Linked DNA regions of Homo sapiens: regions 2, 3 and 4 are each linked to region 1. The links come from fine-mapping of genetic effects on gene expression. A gene starts in region 1. Each other region holds a variant in brackets. All regions are shown on one strand. Distances are from middle to middle. Region 1 holds the start of TNPO2 (transportin 2). Region 2 overlaps BEST2 (bestrophin 2). Region 3 holds the start of WDR83OS (WD repeat domain 83 opposite strand). Region 4 overlaps TNPO2 (transportin 2).

Evidence for each region. PIP is the estimated chance that this variant, and not a neighbour inherited with it, causes the effect.
Region 2: its variant is fine-mapped to the expression of TNPO2 in whole blood (INTERVAL, PIP 0.95).
Region 3: its variant is fine-mapped to the expression of TNPO2 in whole blood (INTERVAL, PIP 0.98).
Region 4: its variant is fine-mapped to the expression of TNPO2 in whole blood (INTERVAL, PIP 0.99).

The regions. Positions count from the first base shown.
Region 1 is chr19:12,721,529-12,726,750 of GRCh38, reverse strand. TNPO2 (transportin 2) reads left to right here and starts at 2,819. Exons shown (of 26, transcript NM_001382241.1): 1 at 2,819-2,982; 2 at 3,386-3,502. RefSeq lists enhancers at 2,432-3,048, 3,049-3,667, 3,720-3,869, 3,668-4,285, 4,286-4,904 and a silencer at 4,370-4,459.
Region 2 is chr19:12,758,261-12,763,260 of GRCh38, reverse strand. BEST2 (bestrophin 2) reads right to left here. Exons shown (of 10, transcript NM_017682.3): 10 at 4,803-5,000. It overlaps HOOK2 (hook microtubule tethering protein 2), which reads left to right. Exons shown (of 23, transcript NM_013312.3): 23 at 1-258. Among named protein-coding and RNA genes, the nearest start is that of BEST2, 9.0 kb to the right of the region's middle. The variant G/A (reference allele first, on the strand shown) is at 2,278.
Region 3 is chr19:12,669,097-12,674,224 of GRCh38, reverse strand. WDR83 (WD repeat domain 83) reads right to left here. Exons shown (of 11, transcript NM_001099737.3): 3 at 4,332-4,470; 4 at 4,128-4,248; 5 at 3,940-4,045; 6 at 3,614-3,662; 7 at 3,404-3,530; 8 at 1,311-1,378; 9 at 1,109-1,217; 10 at 909-1,023. The coding sequence starts at 4,434. It overlaps WDR83OS (WD repeat domain 83 opposite strand), which reads left to right and starts at 4,810. Exons shown (of 4, transcript NM_016145.4): 1 at 4,810-4,871; 2 at 4,992-5,097. The coding sequence starts at 4,822. It also overlaps a transcript of DHPS not described here. RefSeq lists a cis regulatory region at 1,734-2,314 and enhancers at 3,189-3,862, 4,022-4,111, 4,252-4,341. The variant T/C (reference allele first, on the strand shown) is at 2,621.
Region 4 is chr19:12,698,145-12,703,366 of GRCh38, reverse strand. TNPO2 (transportin 2) reads left to right here. Exons shown (of 26, transcript NM_001382241.1): 21 at 449-544; 22 at 1,190-1,295; 23 at 1,516-1,615; 24 at 1,695-1,769; 25 at 1,914-2,041; 26 at 2,124-4,166. The coding sequence ends at 2,021. Among named protein-coding and RNA genes, the nearest start is that of SNORD135, 2.9 kb to the left of the region's middle. RefSeq lists enhancers at 1-532, 1,143-1,752, 1,030-2,229. The variant A/G (reference allele first, on the strand shown) is at 2,802.

The sequences.
Region 1 (5,222 bases):
CAAGTTCTAAAGTAAGGGCAATATTCATAGAATCTAACCCTGCCATTGTTTAAAACAGCTAGTGCTTTCCAGGGTGAAGAAGTTGGCTTGCGTTTGGGGACTGTGTTAAGTTAGTTGAAGTGCTGACCTTTGAACTCGGGGGACAGTGTGATGAGAGGCTTGGGAAGGGAGGCTGCTGTAAATTGAGAACACGTTTGTCTCACATTTCAGATTCGCGGTTGGACACCAATTCTTTTTTTTTTTTTTTTGAGACAGAGTCTCGCTCTGTCGCCTAGGCTGGAGTGCAGTGGCGCGATCTTGGCTCACTGCAAGCTGCGCCTCCTGGGTTCACGCCATTCTCCTGCCTCAGCCTTCCGAGTAGCTGGGACTACAGGCGGTCGCCACCACGCCTGGCTATTTTTTTTTGTATTTTTAGTAGAGACAGGGTTTCACCGTGTTAGCCAGGATGGTCTTGATCTCCTGACCTTGTGATCTGCCCGCCTCGGCCTCCCAAAATGCTGGGATTACAGGCATGAACGTGAGCCACCGCGCCCGGCTGGTTGGACACCAATTCTGTGAGTTTCTTTTGGCACAGAGAGCTTCTAATTGAACTAGGGTAAGTTTGCCAGGCATAGGGCTGTTGTGAGATTTGCATGAGATAACATTTGGCCTTTTTTTTTTTTTTTTTTTTTTTTGAGACAGAGTCTCGCTCTGTCGCCCAGGCTGGAGTGAAGTGGTGTGATCTTGGCTCACTGCAACCTCCGCCTCCCGTGTTCAAGCGATTCTCCTGCCTCAGCCTCCTGAGTAGCTGGGATTATAAGCGCAGGCCACCACTCCTGGCTAATTTTTTTGTATTTTTAGTAGAGACAGGGTTTCACTGTGTTAGCCAGAAGATGGTCTCAATCTCCTGACCTCGTGATCTGCCCTCGGCCTCCCAAAGTGCTGAGATTACAGGCATGAGCCACCACATCCGGTATTAATGAGATAACATTTGGAAACCACTTGACATGCAGTAGGTGCTTAAGAAATAGGAAAAAAGGCCAGGCATGGTGGCTCATGCCTGTAATACCAGCACTTGGGGAGGCCAAGGCAGGTGGATCACCTGAGGTCGGGAATTCGAGACCAGCCTGACCAACATGGAGAAACCCGGTCTCTACTAAAAATACAAAATTAGCAGGGCGTGGTAGCACATGCCTGTAATCCCAGCTACTCGCGAGGCTGAGGCAGGAGAATCACTTGAACCCGGGAGGCAGAGGTTGTGGTGAGCCGAAATTGCACCATTGCACTCCAGCCTGGGCAACAAGAGCAAAACTCCACCTCAAAATAAAAAAAAAAAAAAAAAAGGAAAAAAGGCCAGGCACGGTGGCTCACACCTGTAATCCCAGCACTTTTTGGGAGGCCAAGGCGGGCAGATCACAAGGTCAGGAGTTCAAGATCAGCCTCGCCAATATGGTGAAACCCTGTTTCTACTAAAAATACAAAAATTAGCTGGGTGTGGTGGCGGGTGCCTGTAGTCCCAGGTACTCGGGAGGCTGAGGCAGAATAGCTTGAATCCCGGAGGCGGAGGTTGCAATGAGCTGAGATCCCACCATTGCACTCCAGCCTGGGCGACAGGGCAAGACAGTGTCTCAAAAAAAAAAAAAAAAAAAAAAAAAAAAAAAAAAAAAGAAAGAAAGAAAGAAATAGGAAAACTGGGCCGGGCACAGTAATCCCAGCACTTTGGGAGGTCGAGGCAGGTGGATCACCTGAGGTCAGGAGTTCAAGACCAGCCTGGCCAACATGGCAAAACCCCATCTCTATTAAAAATGCAAAAAATTAGCCTGGCGTGGTGGCAGGCGCCTGTAATTCCAGCTACTCGGAAGGCTGAGGCAGGAGAATCGCTTGAATCCGGGGGCGGAGGTTGCAGTGAGCCGAGATTGAGCCATTGCACTTCAGCCGGGACAATGAGAGCAAGACACCATCTCAAAAAACAAAAAAACAAAAAAAGCCAGGCGCGGTGGCTCACGCCTGTAATCCCAACACTTTGGGAGGCCAAGGCAGGCAGATCATGAGGTCAAGAAATCAAGACCATCCTGGTCAACATTGTGAAACCCCATCTCTATTAAAAAAAATTAGCCGGGCGTGGTGGCGCATGCCTGTAATCCCAGCTACTCGGGAGGCTGAGGCAGGAGAATCGCTTGAACCCGGGAGGCGGAGGTTACAATGAGCTGAGATCGCGCCACTGCACTTCAGCCTTGTAACAGAGCGAGACTCCGTCTCAAAAACAAAACAAAACAAAACAAAGAAATAGAAAAACAAAAACAACAAAACAACAAAAACCCAAAACCTTGTCCTGATTCAACACTCAAATTCACCAGCTGGAGAGGAAGAAAAAATTCCGTGACCACACAAGGGCCAACAATGTGGACCACACATGCAGCAGGGGCTACTTTGTTCTGCCCCAAGGCTTGCGGAGGGCCGCTGAAAATTTGCCATATTATATGAAGGGGGTGAACCTTAACAAATTGTCTCCTGCATCCCAAACTCGCTCCCCATCTGATCTTTATCTGGGGCAGCCCCCAAATTTGACCAGAAAGCTCTTATCGTTCACACTCGCTCCAGGAACCCCCAAATCCAGCCCCAGCTCCCCAGTCTCACTCTTCTGCTCCCCATGCACCTCGGTTGGTCTAGAGACCCTCCTGCCAATTTGAGTCTCAGCCAAAACCCCAAAGCGCGGCGACCCTGGCGCATGGCAGGACGGGATTTGTAGTTCCAGGGCTTATCGGAGGGTGGGGGAGAGGGAGGCCTTTACGCATGCCTTGGTGGCGGCTTTCTGCACGTGTTTCTCAGCCCAGGTTTCAGTCCAGCGGAACTGGCTACCTCGGAATCCCAACTGCTCCTTTAGGGTGTCTTCCGCGATTCTCCGAGTGGAGTTAGGCGCCTGCCGACACTTCCCTAACCTTGGAGGCCCGGGACTTGATTTTCATGAATGAACGGAGCCGGGACTGACTTTGCCTACGGCAAGTGGGTTGAGATAGCTGTTCCCCTCCTTCAGGCAGGGGCAAAAATTGACCTCTGCCTCTCTCGAGGGTCAAAAAGTTCCTCAGGGCAGGGTGGGTTGTTCTTTGGGATTAGAGCTGGTGAATTCATTAAATATCGGCTTAGGGAGGGGCTGAATACAGTAAAAGAACAGCCTTGAGCCTTGGAGGGTAAAGCCACGTTTTTAAGGAACAATTCAGAGCTGGCCAGGTCATGCTTAACTTGGATGATCTCTAATCGCGCGAACTGCTCTTATACCCATTTGACAAGTGGGGAAACTGAGGCTTCAAGTGGCAGGAGGTCTCCCACTTTGTTATCGGCAGGGCAGGGAGGGGAAACCAAGACGCTACAGGGTCTCCAGCTTTTTACCATCTGCTCCTCTCTCAAGAGAAGGAAAAACGGTGCCCTACTGTCTTCAGACGTCGCAAGGATCAAGAAGATTTCTTTCTTCATGACCCTGCCCTTGCCAGAATTTCCTGCGCTGTTCCACCTCATTCAACTTCAGGTAGGGAAAGGGATTAGGCGTGGTTCAAAGTTTATTTTATTAGTTCATTTCGTTTTATTCAAAAATTTATATCCTTGTGGCTTTTTCATCTCCTTGTAAAAACTATCAAACAGTACTGGAAAATAATGCAAAAAGTGGCAGAGGCTTCTGTAGGAACCCGGCTTGTCTCAGGCACTTACTTTGTCCTGCTTTCTTTCCTTTGTCTCTGGGGTATAAAGAGCACGCTCAGCTCTTTCCTTGCGCACACACAGCGTACTCCTCCCAAGTACCTCTGGATGGGGGAAGGGAGGCACATTTCAATTTTTAGTGGAGGAAGGTGACAAGGAGGGTGCTGGCTCTGGCCGAGGGGTTCCTGGATCCATCACACACAAAGTCCCCACGCGCTACCAAACTCCTGGCTCCAGCTAAAGAGCTTGCGGTCAGGTCAGTGAAAGATGCTGGGAAAACGAGACACTGGGAGGACCGGCTGGCTAGAGAGGCCAAAGAAACGGCAACTCTTTGGTCACGTGACCGGACCTTGTCTCAGCCCGGGTTTCCCAAGTGCCAGGGCACGTGTGAAGGTTGAACCTTCCGATTGGCTCGGCGGGACCAGTTTGAACGGAGTACGGGAGCCGCGGCGGCTCACCTACGGCCGCGTTTTTCTTTTTTTTTTTTCTTTCTTTCTTTTTTTTTTTTTTTTTTTTTTTTAATTCTCTCTCTTTGGCTCCCTCCTTCCGCGCGAGTCTCTGGAGAAGCCGCAGCGCGAGTTGCCGCCGCTGCTGCCCGGGGCCGGGTAAGTGGGCCTCACTCAGAGCCCGACCCTCTTGGCCCCGGCTTGCGTCGACCCCCGCCGGGCACCGAGCCTGCGCCGCGCGCGGCCCGGGCGTCGGGGCCGCGCCCGACCGGGAAAGGCCGGGAAGCCGGTTGGGCCCGATCCTCCTGGCAGCTAGAACGGGCCGGGCGGGGGAGGGGGGAACCGAGCAGAGCTTAGGGGGTGGGGCCTCGGAGCCAGGCCATGTCGGGGCTCCTCAAGAAGAGGGCCAGTGGGACTGCTGGGGTCGGGCTGGAGGGGATCTGATTGGGGGAAGCGTCTGGGGACTGCTTGGGGCCTGATTGGGGGACGTCGCGAGGATCGGGTGTGTGTAGGGGCCTGTTTCGGTGGGGCTTGGTTGGGTCTGATTGGGGGAGGCCGCACTGAAAAGTTGAGCGGGGTGGGGGGAGGGGAGCTCGTTGGGTCCTGACAGGGAGGGGCGTCAGACTTCGGCCTAGAGGGTTTTCTTGGATCTGACTTCGAGGCGTTGCTGGGATCCGTTGAGGGGAATGCCCCGGGGGGTGTTTACCCAGGCCGAACTGGGGGAGGCTGCAAGGATCGGACCAGGGGGTTACTGACACGAGGTGGTGGGGGGCTCGGCCGAACTTGACTGGGAGAGGCAACAGAGATCCGTCAGCAGGGGTTACTGCTGACAGGGTCGGAGGGAATTTCAGGGAGAGGCTTGGCCAGACCTGATTGGGGAAGGCGACTGGGATCGGTCCAGGGGGCTCCTATAGTGGGTTGGCCGGGCTTGGCTGGCTCTCATTCGAAGAGGCAGCAGAGACCTACCTGGGGACTGCTTTGGGCCTGATTAAGGGGAATCCTTAGAATTTGGCTAGGCCACAGAGGGGGATATCTGGCATCCACTGAGCTTGAAGGGCAGGAACAGGGGACAGGAGAGATCAGGACGATCGTCTTGGGAGGGCGCAT
Region 2 (5,000 bases), 37 kb before region 1:
CCTGGGCTCCACCCACCCTGGCTTCCTCCAGCTCACATGGCGCCCAGCACTGGGCTTCAGCCAGGTGCTCGAGAGCTTTGAGGCCATGATCTCTGCTCTTCCCTCTCCCAGATTGGTGGGGAGGGAGGGCGGGAGGTAGATATAGGCCTGTTCTTTTTAGCAATGTGATTCTTGTTGTTGATTCTCTCTCTGGAGTTCATGTGCTGCCTCAGGAGACTCTGATTTTATATTTGAGAAAAATAAAGGCGTTCAATCTGCCCTGGCTGTGCTCTGGGCACCAAGGTGAGGGAGAGAAAGTGGGCCAGAGGCTTAGCCCATTGCTTTTAAGAAAAGCTTAGCGGCCAGGTACGGTGGCTCACGCCTGTAACCCCAGCACTTTGGGAGGCTGAGGCGGGTGGATCACCTGAGGTCAGGAGTTTGAGACCAGCCTGGCCAACATGGCAAAACCCCTCCTCTACTAAAAATACAAAAATTAGCAGGGCATGGTGGTACATGCCTGTAATCCCAGCTACTCGGGAGGCTGAGGTGGGAGAATCGCTTGAACCTGGGAAACAGAGGTTGTAGTGAGCTGAGATCATGCCATTGCACTCCAGCCTGGACAACAGAGCAAGACTCCATCTCAAAAAGAAAAAGAAAGAAAAGCTTGGCTTGCATTCTTACTAAAATGTGAGTGACCAATAGCACCAACCAGAGGTAGGTGAGGATCACGTTTGTGTGTCTGTGAATGTGTGGTGGTTTTGTTTTTTGGTTGTTGTTGCTTTTTTTTTTTTTTTTTTTTGAGATGGAGTCTCACTCTGTCGCCCAGGCTGGAGTGCAGTGGCACGATCTTGGCTCACTGCAGCCTCTGCCTCCTGGGTTCAAGGGATTTTCCTGCTTCAGCCTCCTGAGTAGCTGGGACCACCTGCGCATGCCACCACGACTGGCTAATTTTTGCATTGTTAGTAGAGACGGGGTTTCACCATGTTGGCCAGGGTGTTCTTGAACTCCTGACCTCAGATGATCCGCCCACCTCAGCCTCCTAAAGTGCTGGGGTTACAGGAGTGAGCCACCACGCCTGGCCACTAAGCTTTTCTTAAAAGCAGTGGGCTAAACCCTGGCCCACTTTATCTCCCTCACCTTGGTGCCCAGAGTTACCAGAGTGAGCCACCACTGTGGAACAATCATAGCTTGCTGCAGCCTGGGCAACAAGAGTGAGACCCCATCGAAAAAAAAAAAGAATAAAAAGGCCCAGAAAGGAGGCCTCACCAAGGAAGTGACATTATTGAAGCAGATACCTGAAGGAGGTGAGGGAGAGGCCATGTAAGTACCTGGGGAAGATCCAGGCAGAACAGTTTGCACAAAGGCCCTGAGATGACACCTCGCTTGGTGTGCTGGAGGGACAGTAAGGGGACCAGAGTGGCTGGAGTGGAGTGAATAAGAAAGCAGAAGGCCGGGCGTGGTGGCTCACGCTCATGCCTGTAATCCCAGCACTTTAGGAGGCTGAGGCTGGCGGATCACAAGGTCAGGAGATTGAGACCATCCTGGCTAACATGGTGAAACCCTGTCTCTACTAAAAATACAAAAAAATTAGCCGGGCGTGGTGGCAGGTGCCTGTAGTCCCAGCTACTCGGGAGGCTGAGGCAGGAGAATGAACCCGGGAGGCGGAGGTTGCAGCGAGCCGAGATTGTGTCACTGCACTCCAGCCTGGGCGATAGAGCAAGACTCCATCTCAAAAAATAAAAGGAAAGCAGAAGGCCGGGTGCAGTGGCTCACGCCTGTAATCACAGCAGTTTGGGAGGCAGAGGCAGGCAGATCACGAGGTCAGGAGATCGAGACCATCCTGGCTAACACGGTGAAACCCGTCACTACTAAAAATACAAAAAAATGCGGCCGGGCACAGTGGCTCACGCCTGTAATCACAGCACTTTGGGAGGCTGAGACGGGCGGATCACGTGAGGTCAGAAGTTTGAGACCAGCCTGACCAACATGGAGAAACGCCGTCTCTACTAAAAAAAAAATACAAAATTAGCCGGATGTGGTGGCATACGCCTGTAATCCCAGTCACTCTGGAGGCTGAGGCACAAGAATCGCATGAATCTGGGAGGCGGAGGTTGTGGTGAGCTGAGATCATGCCATTGCACTCCAGCCTGGGCAACAAGAGCAAAACTCCGTCTCAAAAAAATAATAATAATAAATAAAAATAAAAATACAAAAAAATTAGCCAGGCGTGGTGGCGGGTGCCTGTGGTCCCAGCTACTCGGGAGGCTGAGGCAGGAGAATGGCGTGAACCCGGGAGGC[G/A]GAGCTTGCTTGCAGTGAGCCGAGATGGCTCCACTGGCACTCCAGCCTGGGCGATACAGCGAGACTCTGTCTCAAAAAAAAAGAAAAAGAAAAAGAAAGCAGATGAGGGTGGGGAGATTATTCAGGGACTTGTGGGCTGCAGAGAATACTTTAACTTTTATTCTAAGTGCTGTGGGAGCCACGGAAGAGTCTAAGCAAAGGAGGGATGTGACCTGGCTCGGGTGTTCATAGGCGCCCTCTGGTGGCCACTCTGGGAGAAACAGGCTTAGGAGGCCAGGGCCAGAGCTTGAAGACCTGGTTGGTAGTCCAGGTGGGTGGGTGGGTGATAGTGAGGGCTCTGGCCAGGCTGGGGTCCTGGAGGAGTGAGAAATGGTTGGATTCTAGATACGATTTAAAGGCAAAGCTGGCAGGGCACGGTGGCTCACGCCTGTGATCCCAGCACTTTGGCTGGCCAACATGGTGAAACCCTGTCTCTACTAAAAATACAAAAATTAGCTGGGTGTAGTGGGCGCCTGTAATCCAAGCTACCTGGGAGGCTGAGGCAGGAGAATCACTTGAACCCGGGAGGCGAAGGTTGCAGTGAGCCAAGATCATGCCATTGCAATCCAGCCTGGTGACAAGAGTTAAATTCCGTCTCAAAAATAAAATAAAAATAAAGGCAAATCTCGGCCGGGCGCGGTGGCTCACGCCTGTAATCCCAGCACTTTGGGAGGCTGAGGCGGGCGGATCACCTGAGGTCAGGAGTTCGAGACCAGCCCCAACATGGAGAAACCCCGTCTCTACTAAAAATACAAAATTAGCCGGGCGTAGTGGTGCATGCCTGTAATCTCAGCTACTCGGGAGGCTGAGGCAGGAGAATTGCTTGAACCTGGGAGGTGGAGGTTGCAGTGAGCCGAGATCGCGCCATTGCGCTCCAGCCTGGGCAACAAGAGCGAAACTCCGTCTCAAAAACAAATAAATAAATAAAATAAAAATAAAGGCAAAGCTGATAAGATTTGCTGCTGGGTTGGTGTGGCCACTGGGTTGATGTGATGGCCTGTGGCGGGAATAGGAATCCACATGACTTCTTTTGGCCTTATCACCTGGAAGGACAAAGCTAACACACAGGGTGGGGCAGATTGGGGGGCTGATTAGGAGCTGGATTTCAAGTGTGTTATGTTTGAAGTGTCTGTGACATCTCTGCAAGGAGGCATCCAAGAGGCAGTTGGCTTTCTGGGTCTACAGTTAGAGAAGGGATCCTGGCTGGATTTCTTTTTCTTCCTTTTTCTTTTTCAGATGGGGTCTCACTCTGTTGCCACCCAGGCTTGAGTGCAGTGGCACAATCTCACTGCAACCTCCATCTCTCAGGTTCAAGCGATTCTCCTGCTTCAACCTCTGAGTAGCTGAGATTATAGGTGCCCACCACCTCGCCTGGCTAATTTTTGTATTTTTAGTAGAGACGGGCTTTCACCATGTTGGCCAGGCCTGTCTCCAGCTCCTGACCTCAAATGATCCACCCATCTCCACCTCCCAGCTGGGATTACAGGTGTGAGCCCCACTGCAGCACCAGGCCTCTTTTTTTTTTTTTTTTTGAGACAGGGTCTCACTGTGTTGCCCAGGCTGGAGTGCAGTGGCATGACCAGAGCTCACTGCCTTGGCTGGACTTTTATATTCAGGAGTCATCAGGAGTCCGTGTGATATTAAATTAGTAAAACCTGAAGCCCTGAGGGCCTGAGAATGCAGAGGCTTGAGGCAAGAAGAACCCATGATCCTGGGACAGTGGCTGGCTCATTAATGAGTAATGCCAGGGCACTGATGTGGGTGTTTCAGACAGCAGAGTTTGGGAAGAATTAAGCAGGGCACCATCATAAAACCTGGAAGAGGTGAAACCCCGTCTCTACTAAAAATACAAAAAATTAGCCAGGTGTGGTGGTGCGCACCTGTAATTCCAGTTACTTGGGGGACTGAGGCACAAGAATCCCTTGAACCAGGGAGGTGGAGGTTGCAGTGACCCAAGATCGTGGCACTGCACTCCAGCCTGGGTGATGAAGTGAGACTCTGTCTCAAAGGAAAAAAAAAAACCTAGAATAAGCTGGGCCTGGTGGTTGTGGTGGAGGAGGAGGAAGACGAGAAGGAGGAGAAGGAAGAAGAAGAAAGAAGAAACCTGCAGCAGGGCTTGGTGGCTCACGCCTGTAATCCCAGCACTCTGGGGGGCAGAGGTGGGTGGATCACCTGAAGTCAAGAGTTCGAAACCAGCCTGGCCAACATGGTGAAACCCCCCTCTCTACTAAAAATTAAAAAAAGTTAGCTGGGTGTGGTGGTGCGTGCCTGTAATCCCAGATACTTGGGAGGCTAAGGCAGGAGAATTGCTTGGGCCTGGGAGGCAGAGGTTGCAGTGAGCAGAAATCACACCATTGCACTCCAGGCTGGGCAACAGAGAGAGACTCCGTCTCAAAAAAAAAAAAAAAAAAAAGAACCTGCAAGAACTCCCAAATTTTACTTAGGACAATGGATAATGTCTGGCAGGAGAAATCAGACTAACAACGTTTGAGTAAAAATCACTAGCAATTTATTGAGCACCTACTGTATACCAAATGCTTTAATGCCATTCTTTCATCCTCATGACAACTCGAGGAGGTAGTCAGTCACATCTTCACTTGAAGGAAAGAATTCAGGCAGGACACTGATAGAGACCTCTCAGGCAGTGGGGGTTGGGAAGTAGAGCTGGTGGTCAGGGCGGGCTG
Region 3 (5,128 bases), 52 kb after region 1:
ATCTCACCCAAGGTTAGACATGGCCGTCGGCTCCCCCTTGCCCAGGGGTCAGTGCCAGTTGCTCGGCCTGGCATCTGCAGCCCAGCCTGACCCCGGATCTTGCCGCACCTGCCGCCACCCTGAAGCCTTTGTTTCCTGACTGATGCATGCGCAGGCTACACCTCTTAACATATGCTGTTCCCTTTGCCTGGAATGCCCTTCCTGCCTCATCTTCTCTCTAGCCCAAGCTGGGCACGGTGTCTCAGGCCTGTAATCCCAGCACTTTGGGAGGCCGAGGCGGGTGAATCACTTGAGGTCAGGAGTTTGAGACCAGCCTGGCCAACATGGTGAAACCCTGTCTCTACTAAAAATACAAAAATTAGCCAGGTATGGTGGTAGGGGCCTGTAATCCCAGCTACTCAGGAGGCTGAGACATGAGAATCACCTGAACCCTGGGGGGAAGAGGTTGCAGTGAGCTGAGATGGCGCCACTGCATTTGCCTGGGCAATAGTCTCAAAAAAAGAAAAAAGGGCCGGGTGTGGTGGCTTACGCCTGTAATCCTAGCACTTGGGAAGGCTGAGGTGGGTGGATCATGAGGTCAGGAGTTTAAGACCAGCCTGACCAACATAGTGAAACCCTGTCTCTACTAAAAATACAAAAATTAGCTGGGTGTGGTGGCACGCACCTATAATCCCAACTACTCAGGAGACTGAGGCAGGAGAATCGCTTGAACTTGGGAGGCGGAGTTTACAGTGAGCCAAGATTGCGCCACTGCACTCTAGCCTGGGCGACAGAGCAAGACTTGTCTCAAAAAAAAAAAAAAAAAAAAAAAAAAGATCCTAGCCTTCAGGCCCTGGAGTGACTGAGGTAAGGACAGGGCTGAGATGGGGCAGGCATCTAGGTATGAAGTAGGGCTGGGGGCACCTCACCTCCACCAGGTCCCAGAAGAACACCTTCCCGTCCTCAGAACAGCTGACCACATGTGTGTCACGCTCGCTCAGGCAGCAGTCCAGCTTGTATTCCTGGTTCTTATGGCCCTTGTACCTAAGGGTGGACAGGATCGGGGGGCTTGGTCCTCTCCAGGGGTGGGAGAGGAGGGAAGGGGATCCCCACGACCACAAGGACTCACTCGCCCAGCAGCTCCCCTGTGTCTTTGTCCAGGAGCCGCAATGTGGAGTCCAGGCTGGACACCAGGGTGCACTGCCCATCCCGGCTGAAGCAGGTGCAGGTGATGGGGCCTTGGGGGAAGGGTGGGTAGGTGAGTGAGGGTGGGGTGCCCCTGGTTGGCCCCCCATCTTCCCTGCCTGTCCCACATCCCCAGCCACACTCACTGCCCACGTAGTCTGAGAAGAGCTGCCCCATCCTTAGGTCATAGCGTCTCACGCGGCCATCCACGGAGCTGCAGGAGAGGGTAGATCCAGCGGGAACCTTGACTACACTCACATGGCTCCAGGCAGCCCTGTGCCTTCCCAGCCCAGTGGGCCTGCTCTTCCAGTGCACAGGAGTGGAATTCTGAAGCTCTGGCCTTGAGACTCAGGCCCAGGGCCAATTACGTCCTACTCCATCATTTCCAAGACCCACACCCCCTTTCCAAGCCCTTGGAGTCCTTCTGATTCCCCCTTTTCTTCCTTTTGTTTGAGACAGAGTTTTGCTCTTGTTGCTCAGGCTGGAGTGCAATGGCATGATCTTGGCTCACCGGAACCTCTGCCTCCCGGGTTCAAGAGATTCTCCTTCCTCAGCCTCCCGAGTAGATGGGAATACAGGCATGCACCACCACGCCCTGCTAATTTTGTATTTTTAGTAGAGACGGGGTTTCTCCATGTTGGTCAGGCTGGTCTCGAACTCCCAACCTCAGGTGATCCGCCCACCTCAGCCTCCCAAAGTGCTGGGATTACAGGTGTGAGCCACCCCACCTGGCCCAATTCCCCCTTTTCCTGCATTCTCCAGCTCCTCCTCCTCAGTACTCAGTCCCACCACTTTCCCCACTACCCAGCACCAGCATCTAGACTGTTCTGGTCTCCCTGCACCCCCCACAGCCACCAGAGGGAGCACTTTTCAAAGTACAGTTGACCCATGAACAACACGGTTTGAACTGAACGCGTCCACTTATATGTGGATTTTCTTCTGCCTCTATCAGCTGTGAGACACCAAGATCAATCCCTCCTCTTCCTCCTCCTCTGCTTTCTCAACACGAAGATCTTTATGACGATCTCTTCACTTCCACTTAATGAATAGAAAATATATTTTTTCCACCAGGCGCGGTGGCTCACGCCTGTGATTCCAGCTCTTTGGGAGGCCAGGGCAGGTGGATCACGAGGTCAAGAGATGGAGACCCTCCTGGCCAACATGGCGAAACCCCGTCTCTACTAAAAATACAAAAATTAGCTGGGCGTGGTGGCACGCGACTGTAGTCCCAGCTACTAGGGAGGCTGAGGCAGGAGAATCGCCTGAACCTAGAAGTTAGAGGTTGCAGTGAGCCGAGATCACGTCACTGCACTCCAGCCTGGCAACAGAGCGAGACTGCGTCTCAAAAAAAACAAAAATTCTTCCTTATGATTATTTTTATGTATTTATTTATTTAATTTATTTACTTATTTTGAGACGGAGTCTTGCTCTATCGCCCAGGAGTGTAGTGGTGCGA[T/C]GTCGGCTCACAGCAAGCTCTGCCTCCTGGGTTCACTCCATTCTCCTGCCTCAGCCTCCTGAGTAGCTGGGACTACAGGCGCCTGCCACTATGCCCGGCTAATTTTTTGTATTTTTAGTAGAGACGGGGTTTCACCGTGTTAGCCAGAATGATCTCGATCTCCTGACCTCATGATCCGCCTGCCTCTGCCTCCCAAAGTGCTGGGATTACAGGCATGAGCCACAGCGCCCGGCCTATTTTTATTTATTTTTAGAAATCATTTTATCTTTTTTTTTTTGAGATGGAGTCTCACTTTGTCGCCCAGGCTGGAGTGCAGTGGCACAATCTCGGCTCACTGCAACCTCCAACTCCCGGGTTCAGGCGATTCTCCTGCCTCCGCCTCCCGAGTGGCTGGGATTACAGGCTCCCGTCACCACACCTGGCTAATTTTTGCATTTTTAGTAGAGACGGGGTTTCACCATGTTGGCCAGGCTGATCTCAACCTCCTGACCTCAAGTGATCTGCCCACCTTGGCCTCCCAAAGTGCTGGGATTACAGGTGTGAGCCACCGTGCCCGGCCAGATTATTATTATTTTGTAGACAGTCTGTCTTTCACCCAGCATGGAGTGCAATGGTGCCTCGAACTCTTGGACTCAAGTGATCCTTCCACTTCAGCCTCCCAAGTAGCTGGGATTACAGCTGTGTGCCACTGTGCCCAGCTGAGAGTAGGTTTTAATCTGAGCATGGGGGCAGCTATGATTCCCCGTAGCACCTGGGGTGAGACCAGGTCCTGGCTCCACTCACCCTGCCAGGATCTCGTGGTCTGACACCTTCACACTGGACACGCCATCTCTGGCCTCATCCAGCGTCTGCACTGGCTCAGGCCTCCGTGAGCGGCAATCCCAACAGCGGATACTGGAATCAATAGAGCCTGTGAGGCCAGCATGATGGTGAGGTCAGGTTTGGAGGGGGAGGGCAGCACCCTGGGCCCCCGTGCTTAGGCCCCAGACTCACCGGACAGGATAACTGTGGCCTCTTCATTAAACTGCACCGTGTTCACCTTCTGAGAAAGTTATTGCCACTCAGAGGAGGCTGGACTTTGGAGGACTGGGATAAAGGCAGGGTTCCCAGTGTCGGTTAAAGCAAGGGCGAAGGGGAGGTGAAAGGTTTTGGGGGAACAGCAAGGACAGGGGTTGGTGACTGCCTAGCCTGGCATGCGGAGTGGGGGATCGTCATCTGGGGAAGGGATCCTTACGGTGTAATGGGGGTGGCCGTGTCACCACCTATGCGCTAATACGGGTCCCCTCCACTCAAATGAGGGTCTCCAGGCTTTCACTCACCCCTGCGTGGCCCCGGAATTTGCGCACGACCTGCCCTGATGCCACATCCCACAGAACCACCGCCTTGTCCCCGCCGCCGGAGCAGAGACTACTGTTGTCAAAGGAGCTGGAGTAAAGGAGGAGGAGGATCAGCATCGACCTCGGATCCCAGCCTCAGCGCTCCCATCCCAGCCTGGTCCCCGGCTCACCCGGCCGCATCCAGCACCTCGTAGCCGTGGCCGCTGTACGTCCGCAGCAGCGTCCCCCGAAGCGGGTTCCACAGCTTCAGCGTCTTGTCACTGCCGCACGTCAGGCAGTAATTGCCATCCACTGGGGAACACCAGGCGGGGGTTACTGGGCCGTCGATCTCAGGAGGCGGGAGGAGGACCCGGAATGAAGACGAAGGCGCTCACCATTAAATCGTACGGCTCGCACTGCCCCCTGCCCGCAGTCCAGCGTCTTCAACCGTTTCTGCGGCAGCTCTGGAGGCCGCGGCTTTGGCTCAGGGAAAGCCATGCTCCCAGGACTCCTTCCTTGCAGCCTTAAATCGGTCTGTACGGAAAATTCCGCGCCTTAGAAACCCACGCTTGGGTGTAACCTTATTATTGTTCTTCCTGACCTACTTCCTGTTTATCACTTCCGGGTTCATCATTTTGGCATTTCGGTGATCGGGTTGGAACTATTGAAGCCCGCTTTCAGGTTCTTTTCCCCATTTTCCCTTTGAAAGGAAGACTTCTGGCTTCTCCTAAATCTCCGTTCTCTGGGTAAGGGGAGTCCAAGCCTCTGTCATGAGGAACGGAAATGCGAGGGCCTCGGGTGTTACTCTAAAATCCGCCCTCAGCTTGCACGCCGGAAGCTGCGATTCCTGCAGCGGAAGAGGCGTGATCTGGCCTTCGACTCGCTATGTCCACTAACAATATGTCGGACCCACGGAGGCCGAACAAAGTGCTGAGGTGAGGACCCCAGCGTCGTGGGCACGGGTTCGGGTTGTGGGTGTGGATCGGGGCCCTGGGAAGCGCCTGTCTATCCCGGGGGCAGGACCTGAGCGCCCCTGACCCTCGAGCCTGTCGCAGGTACAAGCCCCCGCCGAGCGAATGTAACCCGGCCTTGGACGACCCGACGCCGGACTACATGAACCTGCTGGGCATGATCTTCAGCATGTGCGGCCTCATGCTTAAGGTGGGCGGGGTTGAGCTTCTATGGGTGTAGT
Region 4 (5,222 bases), 23 kb after region 1:
GAGCCTAGCTCTGACTGACAGCTTCCTTCAAGGCAAGTCTCTTGGGGGTCGTCAGGGGTGGAGCCAAGCAGAAAGGTCATTTGTGATTGGCTTCTCTAAAGAGGAGGGATAGGAGGGCTGTTCTGATTGGACCGTTTTGTGTAGTTGGCTAAAAGACTCATTCGGATTGGTTGGGTGACTTTGGCTTTTTTTTTCCTTTGACTTGGGCAGCGTGTTGTCACCTTAGCGACTCCAGAGAAGCCTCTGTTGTTTGGAGGGTGTGGGTCTGTCCCTGGTTGGCCAGGGATTCTGGGTGGGGATTAGCCGGAGAAGGTCTTTTGTTTCCTCACTGGTAGTGGTTGGCCAGTCTCTAGTTGGAACTGGGGCGAGTAGTGAGTGAGGTGGGGCGGCCCCCTGGCCCCTGTGGGTGGCGGGGGCTGTGCAGGGCTCTGACTGGGTGCTCCCCCAGGGGCAGAGATGCAGCCTTATGTGCAGATGGTCCTCAACAACCTGGTGGAAATCATTAACCGACCCAACACACCCAAGACACTGCTGGAAAACACAGGTGGGCACCTGGCCCGGCTGCTGCCTGCACCCCTGCCTGCCTTCTGGAGGTGGGGTTCTGGGCTGGGAAGGGCATCAGAAAGAGCCTTGTCAAGGAACCAAGGAGGGTGTCTGGAAGTACCTGGAAGGGGTCACTGGGAGAAGCCCCAAGAAAGATGCAGCCTCAGGCTGGGTGCAGTGGCTCATGCCTGTAATCTCAGCACTTTGGGAGGCAGATCACCTGAAGTCAGGAGTTCGAGACCAGCCTGGCCAACATGGTGAAACCCCATCTCTACTAAAAAATACAAAAATTAGCCGGGGGTAATGGCACGTGCCTGCAATCCCAGCTACTCGGGAGGCTGAGGCAGGTTGCAATGAGCCAAGATCATGCCACTGCACTCCAGCCTGGGCAACAGAGCAAGACTCCATCTCAAAAACAAAACAAAACAAAAAAAAACAAAAAGGAAAGGGAAAGGAAAGAAAGAAAGATAGATGCAGAGAGACCTGGGAAGTGACTCAGGTGTGATGAGGAGGACCCCTGGCTGGGCCAAGCTTGGGGGACCAGGGTGGCTGCAGTAGCCATTCCCTTGGGGCTCATGGGGCGGGGCTTGGTGCCTTGTGCCAGAGGCCCCGCCACGTACCGTCCCGGGGCCGCTCGGGGTTGCAGGTCGCCTGACGAGTCCCTCTGCCATTCCAGCCATCACCATCGGCCGCTTGGGCTACGTGTGCCCCCAGGAGGTGGCACCCATGCTGCAGCAGTTCATCCGGCCTTGGTGTGTGTCCACGTGTCAAGCCTGCTGTGTGGTGGGCGGGACTGGCCCAACCCCCTCCCTCGCCTGTGCATTTCCAGCCCCATCTGCCTACTGACTCCCTGCCCTGCCCCACCCCCACAGATGCATGTCCCAGGCCCACTCACTGATCCCCAGTGACCCAGCCCTCCACAGATGCATGCCCAGCCTGCCCTCTGACCTCCAGCTGCTCACCTTCCCACAGGTGCACGTCCCTCAGGAACATCAGGGACAACGAGGAGAAGGACTCAGCCTTCCGCGGCATCTGCATGATGATCGGTGTCAACCCGGGGGGCGTTGTGCAGGTTGGGGCAGCTGGGCTCTGAGGGCAGGCGCGGGCGCTGGGCTCGGGCGGCCCCTCACCTGGGATCCGTCACGTTTCAGGACTTTATTTTCTTCTGCGATGCTGTAGCCTCCTGGGTGAGCCCGAAGGATGACCTTCGGGACATGTTTTATAAGGTGAGGCTCTGTCTGGGCCCTGATCTAGTTCCGGGAGCAGGCAGGGGTGAGACCATCTGGTAACAATGGGGCCTGGGGATGGGGGAAGAGGCGCACTCCCCTTGTTCTGCCCCTGCCTACCCCTCACCACCACCCTCCCCACAGATTCTCCACGGCTTCAAAGACCAAGTTGGGGAAGATAACTGGCAGCAGTTCTCTGAGCAATTCCCGCCGCTGCTCAAGGAGAGGCTGGCGGCTTTCTATGGGGTCTAGGTGATCATGGAGACTGCCAGGTAAGGAGACTGCAGCTGGCAAGTCAGCACTGTCTTGGGGGCCGAAAGGTCCCAGGCCATGACCTTCCTCCTCCCCCTGCAGGTTTCTGTCTGCGTCGTCGTCGGAGGGATTACTGGGGAGTGCGCTGCATCCGGAAGTCGCTGTGCCCTGGTTGAGGGGGGTTAGGGAGGAGTGAGTGGGACTCAAATCCAGATGCCTTCCCCGTCCGTCCGTCCGTCCGTCCATCCGTCCACTTGCCCTCCTGGCAGGTGGGTGGGGCCACCATGCTCATCCTACAAACGGGGAGGTGGGGGGGACTTCTGGTGGGCAAGGGCCCCTGGGCTCTAATAGGGTCATCTCTGGCAGCCCACTTGGGCCAGCTACGTGGGAGGGAGGAATTACACAGCTGACCGAATCCGGCTTCGGATGAGGTGAGGGAGGAGCAGGTCAGGAGGGGGGCCCTCGTAGGGACGCGTACACTCACACGGACACACATGGCCACACGCATGTGCGGGTGCCATAACCGGCGAGGCTGGGCCAGCCGCTCCACCATTTCCCCGACTGCATGGAGACAGTAGAATTAGTGAACCCCTGAGTTAACCCGTAAGGCCTTCCGTGTAACCTGCATCTAGAGTTTAAGAAGCTTCTGCTGTTTTGCCGGAATTGGCGGTGACTGGGGAGGGCTGGGTGGGTGGGGGGCCTCAGGCGGGATCTCGGGGCGGGGGGAGGAGGATGGTGACCTTGGGAGTCGCCCTGTCAGCACGCACATGCTTGGGACCC[A/G]CTCCACACACTCCCTGCCAGCTTTGTTGCAGCCTCAGCTGGTGGTGTCTCCGTCCTTATCCTAGCCTAGCTCGCAGGGTGAGAACCACTGGAGTGGCTGGGGCTGGCCAGAGGTCACCGTTTCTCCTTCCTGTGTGCTCCAGTGGCTTTTGAAGACACTGGGTTGGGACCTTTTTCCTGAAGAGAGCTGGGTGTAGCCAGAGCTACTGGCACCTACCCCGAGCATCTCTCTCTGTAAGCAGCTTCAGGGGCAGTCCGTTTCTCTGTGCTTCTGAAACCCCCTTCTCACGTTTCAGGCCCCAGTTTTAACTCAAGGCCTGGGGCAGGGGCGTTTAATTGATGATGACAGAGGACACAGGTTTTTGCCAGCAAAAAGGAAAACCAAGGCTTGGTGGAAGGGAAAGGTGGTGTGTCCCCTGTTCCCTATTCCATCTCCCTGGGACTTCCTGCTCATCATAGTACCCAGTGAGCCCAGAGATCCTACTAGACTGGGTCAGCAATTCTAGAGAACCTTCCGGAATAGTCTGGGAACATGGTCAAGGTGGAAGGGGCTCCCCTAGAGAGGGTGGGGGTGTAGTTACTTCCCAGTTGGCCAGAAAACTGGGCCTTGCAGACCCCCTTAGCATTTTTTCCCTTTTTTTCCTTCCCTGCTTTCTACTTCTTTGGGGAGCCCCTTGTGTTTTGGAGTCTGACTGGAGTCTCGCATCCTGGGGCCTGCTCCATCCATCCCTCCTGGGCGCCAGACCCTCCATCCAAGCCCTGTGTCTTTCCATAGTCAGGGTCAGGCCCTGCATCTATTCCAAGGGGCACTCAGTACACATTCCATAAATTAGCTGGGTGTCCCTGCACGCCCACCCCATGAAACTCGAGCAGGTCTCTGGAAGCCATTTGTTAAAAAAAAAAAAAAAAGTTTTAAAAATACCTTTTAATTTTCTGGTAATTCCAGTTCTTTGAAGCATCCTCTGCTGGGTCTTGGGGTGTGTGGATGGATTGGCTGTCTGATGGGATTGGTAACCCCTCGCTACTCAAGATGGGGGGATACAAACACCTTCAGGGAAGGGGAGCCTGGTTCTTCTCGTTTTCCTTTTTTTTTTTTTTTTTAAAAAAAAACTATTTAATTTTTTAATTTATTTTTGGTTGTTTTTTGCACAATGAAGTTTCAGCTTCTCAACCTTCTCCCCTACCCAGGGCTGTGGACCCAGACTGGCCTTGAGCCACAGTCCCTCTTTCCCTCCTCACCCTCTTCCCCCTGCGGGCTCCCGGGTCTGTCCATTTGTTACTGTGCTGTGCTGGGGATTGGCGCCGAGGTGGCGTGAGATTCCACTTGTGTAGAACTTTGTTGAGTAAAGATCAGTTTCTTGTGAACTCCTTAGTCTGTGGCTTCCTGTGTCCTTGGCTTTGGTAGTGAAGAAATGTCGGGGGCACCGGGGATACTTGAGAGTGGGAAGATAGACGAATGTGAAAGATGGAAGATTAAATTTGTAACATATATGAAATGTGCAGCTCATTCTCTGGGACTTCAGCTCACTAAGGGTGAGCCATTAGTGTCACAGCCCAGGTTCAAGATGCCCCTCTGCCGTACTCTAAACTGAGTGGTAAGGGGTGAGGCCTTGCCGCACTCTTATCATCAGCTGACCCTGGGTCAAGGTTTTCATAGAAGGTTCAGCCCAGCCCCAGGCCGAGGGTAATTTAATTAATATTAGTTACAATTACTCAGGCAAATGAGAAGTAGTTTCAGCTGTGGGGGGAAACCACAATCTTCAGAATAAAATCTTTCTTTTTTTTGAGACCGGGTCTTGCTCCGTCACCCAGGCTGGAGTGCAGTGGCGCAATCATGGCTCAGTGCAACCTCAACCTCCCTGGCTCAACCAGTCCTCCCACCTCAGCCACCCAAGTAGCTGGGACTACAGGTGCATGCCACCATGCTGGCTAATTTTTGTATTTTTTGTAGAGGGGGTTTTCGCTATGTTGCTGAGGCTGGTCTTGAACTCCTGGGCTCAAGCAATCCACCTACTTTAGCCTCCCAAAGTGCTGGGATTACAGGTGTGGGCCACCGCCCCCAGCCAAAATAAAATCTTACTGCAACCTTGGTGTGGCCCAAAGACCAACGTGGGAAAATTTAAAAATACTGACACACATCCAATATTCAACAAATAAGTCCTGCATTCTAGTGAGAGGATAGAGTATAAAAAGTGGAACTGTGCTAAGTCCTATAGAGAAAAACAGGAAGGCAGAGAGAATGGTGGGGGAAACGGTTGAAATCTTATGTAGGGTGACCTGCAAAGGCCACACTGAGAAGACGATGTTTGAACAGAGCCATGGAGAGAAGAGTGTCAAGTAGAGCAAACAGCAAGGACTGCGCAGATGACCTACGTGGATTGGTTAGCTGCCTGGCTCAAAAGAGGCTTGCAGTAAATACCT